2 linked regions of the Homo sapiens genome follow. The protein of the gene in region 2 binds, or shares a complex with, the protein of the main gene of each other region. Each region holds a gene or a part of one and is shown on either strand. Other genes may lie near its edges. A codon is read from its position in the direction of its gene.

Region 1 (3,749 bases), on a different chromosome or scaffold from region 2:
AGCCACAAAATCACCATCTTGCAGCCCTGGGCCTGTTTACCCAGTTTCTTCAAACTCTCTACTTGTAGCCGGAAGCACCTGTGCAACTGACCAGAGAAAGGGAACAGACCAAACTGGAGAGGAACCAGTGAGTGTGTATGGTGGAAGGGGATATGCATGCAATAGGTACATACACCACATGAGGGGGCGGGGTTGGCAGGTGGGCCTCCTGAGCCACACCCACCCAAGGCAGGAGACACCTAAGAATGAAATACTCTGAGTGCCTTCAACTCAGAGGCTGCAATCCACTCCACCCCTATGTTCATCATCCACACCCTTGAAAACCTGCTTCTCCTGTAATCCTTCTCAGCAAATGGCACTGCCTTCTCCTGAGTAAGAAATGTGGGGCCATCTCTGATGTTCCCTTCTCTCGCTCTCCCTCCCGCCAGTCACCTACCAGGTTAATCCTTGGCTTCTCGCACCGATCCACTGCATTCCATCCCTCGTGCAGCTGCTTCAGTTCAGCCCACCCTTCCCTGCCTAGAATACTATAGCAGCCTGATTACCCGGTCTTTTCTCCTGCACTCCATTCATCACAGCGAAGTCAGGGAAATCCAAAATGCCTGTCTGCTGTCATGCCTCCACTTAAATCCTTTAGAGGCTTATCATCTCAGTTAAGATGAAACCCAAGCCCCTCTATGACTCATCTTGCTTGCCAATCCCGCCAATGCATCAGTTCACAGGTATTCTTGCTTAAGAACACTGGTTCTTGCCCAGCGCGGTGGCTTGCGCCGGTAATCCCAGCACTTTGGGAGGCCGAGGCGGGTGGATCATGAGGTCAGGAGTTCAAGACCAGCCCGGCCAAGATGATGAAACCCCCGTCTCTACTAAAAATACAAAAATTAGCCAGGCATGGTGGCGCATGCCTATAATCCCAGCTACTCAGGAGGCTGAGGCAGAGAATTGCTTGAACCCAGGAGGTGGAGGTTGCAGTGAGCCGAGATCGTGCCACTGCACTCCAGCCTGGGTGACAAAGCAAGAGCAAGACTCAGTCTCCAAAAAAAAAAAAAAAAAAAAAAAAAAAAAACCAAAAAACCAAGAACCCAGGTTCTCACTCTCCTTGCTCAAAGGACCACCTGGGGGATCTTTGAAAATATTCAGATGTGAGATGGAGTCTTGCTCTGTAGCCCAGGCTGGAGTACAGTAGCACAATCTCGGCTCACTGCAAACTCCACCTCCTGGGTTCAGGCAATTCTCCTGCCTCAGCCTCCAAAGTAGCTGGGATTACAGGCACATGCCACCACGCCTGGCTAATGTTTGTATTTTCAGTAGAGACGGGGTTTCACCATGTTGGACAGGCTGGTCTCAAACTCCAGACCTCAGGTGATCCACCTGCCTCAGCCTCCCAAAGTGCTGGAATTATAGGCGTGAGCCATCACGCCCGGCAAACACTAGAGATTCTGATGCAATTAACTCGGGGCAGACATTAGAATTTTCTTAAAGGTCACTCAGGTGATTCTAATGTGCAGCTTGGCTGGAAACCAGTAGCTTAGGACCAGGCTAAATATAAAAAGTGAGTCAGGCCGGCTGCGGTGGCTCACACCTGTAATCCCAGCACTTTGGGAGGCTGAGGCAGGCGGATCACCTGAGGTCTGGAGTTTGAGACCAGCCTGGCCAACCAAAATGGTGAAACCCCGTCTCTACAAAAAATACAAAAATTAGCTGGGCGTGGTGGTGGGCACCTGTAATCCCAGCTACTTGGGAGGCTGAGGCAGGAGAATTGCTTGAACCTTTGCTGAGGCAAAGGTTGCAGTGAGCCAAGATTGTGCCACTGCACTCCAGCCTGGGCGACAGAGCGAGACTCGTCTCAAAAAAAAAAAAAAAAAAAAATGAGTCAACAGTAAGTAACAGTACAGTGAGGTTTGGGAAACACTGCTCCAGATACTGGTGTCAACATGCTGCTATTAACCTCCCACTCCAAGGCAGGGTGCTGGTGAGGCCCTTCCCCGCTCCCCCCGCTCCCCAACCACATAAGCTCCTTTCCTGCATCTCTCATTCCCTTGTACCTTCTCAGGAGGCACCTCGGGATAAGTGCCTGGCTTCACCAAACCCAGGTGCTGACAGAGCGGCTCAGAGATGGCACAGGCCTCGGCATAGAGCTTGTGACTATAGAAGCTGTAGGCCAAATTACTGGTGTAAGAAGCTGCAGGGGAGAAAAGGCACAATTGACCATAGGAAAGGCTCCCACCACCCTCTCCTCCTGGAGAGGCAGCAGAGATCAGCTGGATCTGTGGTCAGTTCAGCAGCTTCCAGATCAGACAGGAACCCCTACTGCTAGGAATGGGGAAGGGGCGGCTCTCCCCTTCCTGCCCCAAATAGGCCCATGCCCTTCACACCACTCAGCCCATCTGCACTCATTTTACAAACGAGACCCCCTCCTGCCTCAGCACTGGCTGTTTCTTCTGCCAGGGATGTTCTTTTCCAGGAACCCACATGGCTGACTCCCTCACATCCTCCAAGCCTTTGCTCATGTCACCCTCTCAATGAGGTCTACCCTGACCACCTGATTTAAGGTGGTAACTTGCCCCCCGTCATGCACCTTAGACTCCCAATTCCCTTTCTTATCCTGCTCTACTTTTCCTTTCCCCCACATTTCTTATCACGTTCTAATATGTTGATAATTCACTTATTTACTGAATCTGTTTATCTTTTCCCCCCAAACTAGAACGTGGCTCCATGAGGGAAGGAAACTTTGTTTTGCTTACCGACACATCCAAGTACTCCAAATAGTGCGTTGCACACAGTGAGTACTCAACAAATTTTTTTTTTTTTTTTTTGAGACAGAGTCTTGCTCTGTCGCTCAGACTGGAGAGCAGTGGCACGATCTTGGCTCACTGCAAGCTCCACCTCCCGGGTTCACACCATTCTCCTGCCTCAGCCTCCTGAGTAGCTGGGAGTACAGGCGCCTGCCACCACGCCCGGCTAATTTTTTGTATTTTTAGTAGAGACGGGGTTTCACTGTTAGCCAGGATGGTCTCGATCTCCTGACCTCGTTATCCGCCCGCCTCGGCCTCCCAAAGTGCTGGGATTACAGGCGTGAGCCACTGCGCCCGGCAACAAATATTTGCTGAATAAATGATAATAACTTATTTATGCAGCTTCTTGGCCATCAACATAGATGACTGGGAGAAAATAAAGTCAGTCTTCAGTACTCTGTGGGAAGAATTCTCCTTTTTTTTTGAGATGGAGTTTCGCTCTTGTTGCCCAGGCTGGAGTGCCCTCTTGCCCAGGCTGGAGTGCAGTGGTGCAATCTTGGCTCACTGCAACCTCCACCTTGCAGGTTCAAGCGACTCTCCTGCCTCAGCCTACCAAGTAGCTGGGATTACAGGCATGCACCACCTTGCCTGGCTAGTTTTCTATTTTTAGTAGAGACAGGGTTTCAGGGAAGCCAAGGTGGGCAGATCACTCGAGTCCAGGAGTTCAAGACCAGCCTGGACAATATGGCCAGACATCATCTCTACAAAAAATACAAAAATTAGCCAGGCATAGTGGTGCGCGCCTGCAGTCCCAGCTACTTGGGAGGCTGAGGCAGGAGAGTCGCTTGAACCTGCAAGGTGAGCTCGTTGCGGGGCTGAGGTGGGAGGATCGCTTGAGCCTGGGAGGTTGAGACTGTGTTGAGCCGTGATTGTGCCAGTGCACTCCAGCCTAGGTGACAGAGCAAGACCTTGTCTCAAAAAAAAAAAAAAAAAAACACTTAAATATACAGAAAG
Region 2 (3,749 bases):
TCATTGTCCATATCAACATAGACATTAGCTGTCAATCAAAAATTCATGTTTTTCCCTTTGTCAAATCAATCACCTGCATCCCCTCCTGACACATTTTTTGGAATGTGTCTGTGGCCCCAGAATTGACTTTCATTAGGAAGTAAGTTTTAGAAGTATCTGAATCTCTATTGTTCTTAGAGACCAAAGTAAGAGTTAACAGTCTCACTAATGTAACTTATTAGGACAAATTATCCCACATCAGAACAAACAGAAAACATAATGTTGGCTTTGACTACCAGTTCAAACGAAGACCTCAGACCTTCTGCAGTAAGAAGTTATTGTCAGTCTATGCTACAGCACAGGTGTTTTGATCTTATATTAGCTTTGGATATAACATGGAATCATCATTCCAAGCAAGTTTATTATATATGCTTCAACTTATAGCCTAAGAAGATGTAAGTGAGAATTAATCTTTTGGCTGTAGTAAGACTATCCAGTTTCCAGAATAACAATTTTACTGGGGCATTTGGGACTGAAAAGCAATATTAATCGAGAATAGTTTATTTTTCTGAAAACTAATCCTTGTCATTTGAAGGACAGAAATTACTCACAGGCTCACCTCCCGCACAACTCTTCCCATGGTAATGGAAGTGTTATGAAACAAATTGTTTGCAGCCCTTCCAGAAGGGCACTTGCTCACTTACTGGATTCCCATGGTGGAGAGGGCATCTTCACAGGTGAAGGGGGGCCCAGCTGAAACAGCTTTTCAAGCTCTCTCTCCTCGTCAAGGATCATGAGAGGCACTCCACTCAAGGGGAGGTGCGCAATCTGGTGCTCTTCAGGCAGGTCAAAACTCTCAAAGTCTGTTACAGAGAGAAAGCGTTTTTGTCAGGGCAGCAGTTCTTAGTGTGGGCTGTAGATCCCTTGTGGTCTGAGACCCTTTGAGGGGGTCCATGAGGTCAAAACTATTTTCAAGACAATATTCACACCTTTTTCCACTGGGTTGACATTTGTAATGATGGTACCAAGGCAGCGGTGGAGAAAGCTGCTGGTGCCTCAACACAAATCAAGGCAGTGACAGTAAACCATATTAGCAGTCTCTCTGTTCTGCATCCTTCTTCGCTTGTAGTTTAAAAATGCCAGTTTCACTTACTGTCACTTCACCATATGCAGTAGAAAGTATTAATTTTATTAGCTCTCCATCCTTGAGATGTCTTTTTAATGTTCTGTGTGATAAAATGAGAAGTATGCCATAAAGCACTTCCACTGTACACCAAAATACGATTAAAAGGATTTGTGCAACTATATGAGTTGCAAGCTAAAACTAGAGAACATTTTCCTGGAATACTGTTTTTACTTGAATTAACAACTGCAAGAAATCCCATGGTCACTCAGACCTGGGTGCTTGTCACACTTTTTCTTAAAGGAATGAAAGAAGTCTATCACCTCAAGGAAAACTGACAGCCTTTGTTGCCAATGGCAGAATATAAAACGTTAAAATTTTGTCAAAAATTAAAAAATGAATATTTTTTTTTTGAGACAGAGTCTCACTCTTTCACCTAGGCTGCAGTGCAGTGGCACAATCTCCGTTCACTGCAACCTCTGCCTCCTGGGTTCAAGCGATTCTCCTGCCTCAGTCTCCCAAGCAGCTGGGATTACAGGTGCGCCCACCACACCCGGATAATTTTTGTATTTTTAGTACAGACGGGGTTTCACCATGTTGGCCAGGCTGGTCTTGAACTCGTGACCTCAGGTGATCCGCCCGCCTTGCCTCCCAAAGTGCTGGGATTACAGGCGTGAGCCACTGCATCTGGCCAAAAAAAGGAATTTTGGAAAACTTATCTGCAGTCATTAGCTTGACAGGTGCTTAGACTTTTCTGATGAGATCAGTTGTGGTATTAATGTGCTTTTGATATTGTATAATAAAGCATCTCAACATGTGGGTATCTACATATCTCAGTGAACCAGTATTTCTGAATGGTCAATGCAAGATAGATGCAAGAATATAAGATACATTCCAAGTGCAAAATAGACCAATGGATTTTACTGTCAAGATACAAAATGCTCATTGATACGGTTTCAGATTCCACATTGCAATTTTATATTCAGAAACAGCCACTTGTGGGTTTTAGTGTAGTGGCAAAAAAACCTATCCACACTTATCTGAAAAGACTATTAAAAACGTATCTGTGTGAAGCCAGGTTTTCTTCGTATATTTTAACAGATGTAAGAGTGAATATAGAATTTGATAAGAATCCAGTTGTCTTGTATTAAGCCAAATAAAGCAAATTTTCAAAAATATAAACCATGCCATTCTTCTCCAAACTTTTCCAGAACAAAAAATATTTTATGTTAAAAAAAAATTTACATTAATGTAATGTGATTACTTAGTGAATAAATATCTTAAGTTTCTCAGTCTTAATTTCTAATACAGAAAAGAGCAGATCACACAAGCAAAAGTGGTCTTCAATAATTTCTAAGAGTGTAAAAGGGTCTTTAAAACAAAACAAAAAAAAATGGAGAACCATTGTGTTAGGTAACATTCATTCTTAAAATCCAAGTACCTTACTTCTTAGCAATTATTTTTAAAAAGTGATTTTTCTGTACAGTAACAAAAGTAGGATTTAACACTGAATTTTCTTCAAGGAGCTGTTTTCTCAAAAGATTAGAAAATCATGGTTTTCCTTATCTTTGTCCGTAGGTGTGAAAGTTCTCTAAAGCCTAAGTACTCAAGAATTAGTCTGCTCTTTTACAAGCCTGGTAAAACCCAGAAGTCAAAAAGGAATTGAATGATATGTGACTATTTAACTTAAAACCACTGAATTGTAAAGGAAACCATAGACAGAAGACTCCAGAGGAAAGAAGTTTGCAATATAAGGGGAGCTAATTTTATCTACAAAGAGCTCTTTAATCAAAGAAAAACACAAACCGGAAGTTAATAAAAAAAGAAAAACTGTAAGTGGCCAATAATCAAATATGTTCACCATACACACAACAAATTTAAAACAATGAAATATTTCTTTTCTGATAAAGATTAGAGTTTTAAAACATTGATAGTGAACCTGGAGGAAGCAGACATCTTCATCCACTGTAGACGGATTTAACAATTTACACTATTTTGAAGGGCCACTTAGCAATATCTCTTTCCTGTAACACAGGATATTGTGGTCTTCATTCTTCATCAATATGCATAAATCTACCTCATTTTCCTCAATGGCTGAATGGTAATTATTAGCACGGATGCACCACATTTTATAATTTTAAAACTTAATCACACAAGCCCTTGAACTCAGCAATCCTTCTCAAAGTTTCCCTCCAGATGTACTCACAAACTTACAACAAGATCATTTCAAGAATACTAATCATAGAAATGTTTGTAGTTTCTAAAAGCCAGAACAATCTGAATGCAAATTAGTAAAATAACTACATGACCTCTTTGGCTAAATAAAAGGGTAAAAGATCCAGCTCAGAAATCCGTAAGGCCCTCCCTGATCTGATCCCACACCTCACCTGTATCCTCCTTTACCCTGCCTGTATTTTTCCTAGAACCACTTTAGTCTCTTTTCCTACCTCACGATCTTTGCACCACTTTGACCTACAATGCTGTTTTTTCTGGCTCACTCACAGTGAGATGACTTGTCCAGCATCTGACTTTCCCTTCAAATTATGGGCTCCCATAGGCAGGGCCCATCTTGTTAAACAGTGTGTCCAGGACCTAAGGATGCCTGACACACAGTAGCTTCTCCTGAAATGGTTGAGTAAATTAAAGC

Evidence for each region. The genes of interacting proteins can lie anywhere in the genome.
Region 1: the proteins of PTTG1 (region 2) and ESPL1 are in contact, whole or in part, in a cryo-EM structure (PDB 7NJ1), measured with the Homo sapiens proteins. Residues at the interface, in NP_001269311.1 of Homo sapiens: Tyr111, Pro112, Glu113, Ile114, Glu115, Lys116, Phe117, Phe118, Pro119, Phe120, Asn121, Pro122, Leu123, Phe125, Glu126, Ser127, Phe128, Asp129, Leu130, Pro131, Glu132, Glu133, His134, Gln135, Ile136, Ala137, His138, Leu139, Pro140, Leu141; in NP_036423.4 of Homo sapiens: His402, Thr405, Val406, Tyr409, Ser461 (codon at 2,171), Asn462 (codon at 2,168), Tyr465 (codon at 2,159), Tyr468 (codon at 2,150), Arg505 (codon at 80), Arg508 (codon at 71), Glu512 (codon at 59), Glu544, Thr547, Phe548, Arg551, Gln590, Lys593, Ala594, Val595, Arg596, Thr599, Gly600, Arg603, Gln634, Cys637, Tyr638, Trp683, Ile686, Glu690, Ile697.

Annotation. Positions count from the first base shown.
Region 1 is NC_000012.12:53,271,154-53,274,902, reverse strand, and holds part of ESPL1 (separin), read right to left. Parts: intron 2,183-3,749; coding exon 2,046-2,182; intron 87-2,045; coding exon 1-86. UniProt on the Homo sapiens protein: Caspase-like protease, which plays a central role in the chromosome segregation by cleaving the SCC1/RAD21 subunit of the cohesin complex at the onset of anaphase. During most of the cell cycle, it is inactivated by different mechanisms.
Region 2 is NC_000005.10:160,424,808-160,428,556, reverse strand, and holds part of PTTG1 (securin), read right to left. Parts: intron 843-3,749; coding exon 684-842; intron 1-683. UniProt on the Homo sapiens protein: Regulatory protein, which plays a central role in chromosome stability, in the p53/TP53 pathway, and DNA repair. Probably acts by blocking the action of key proteins.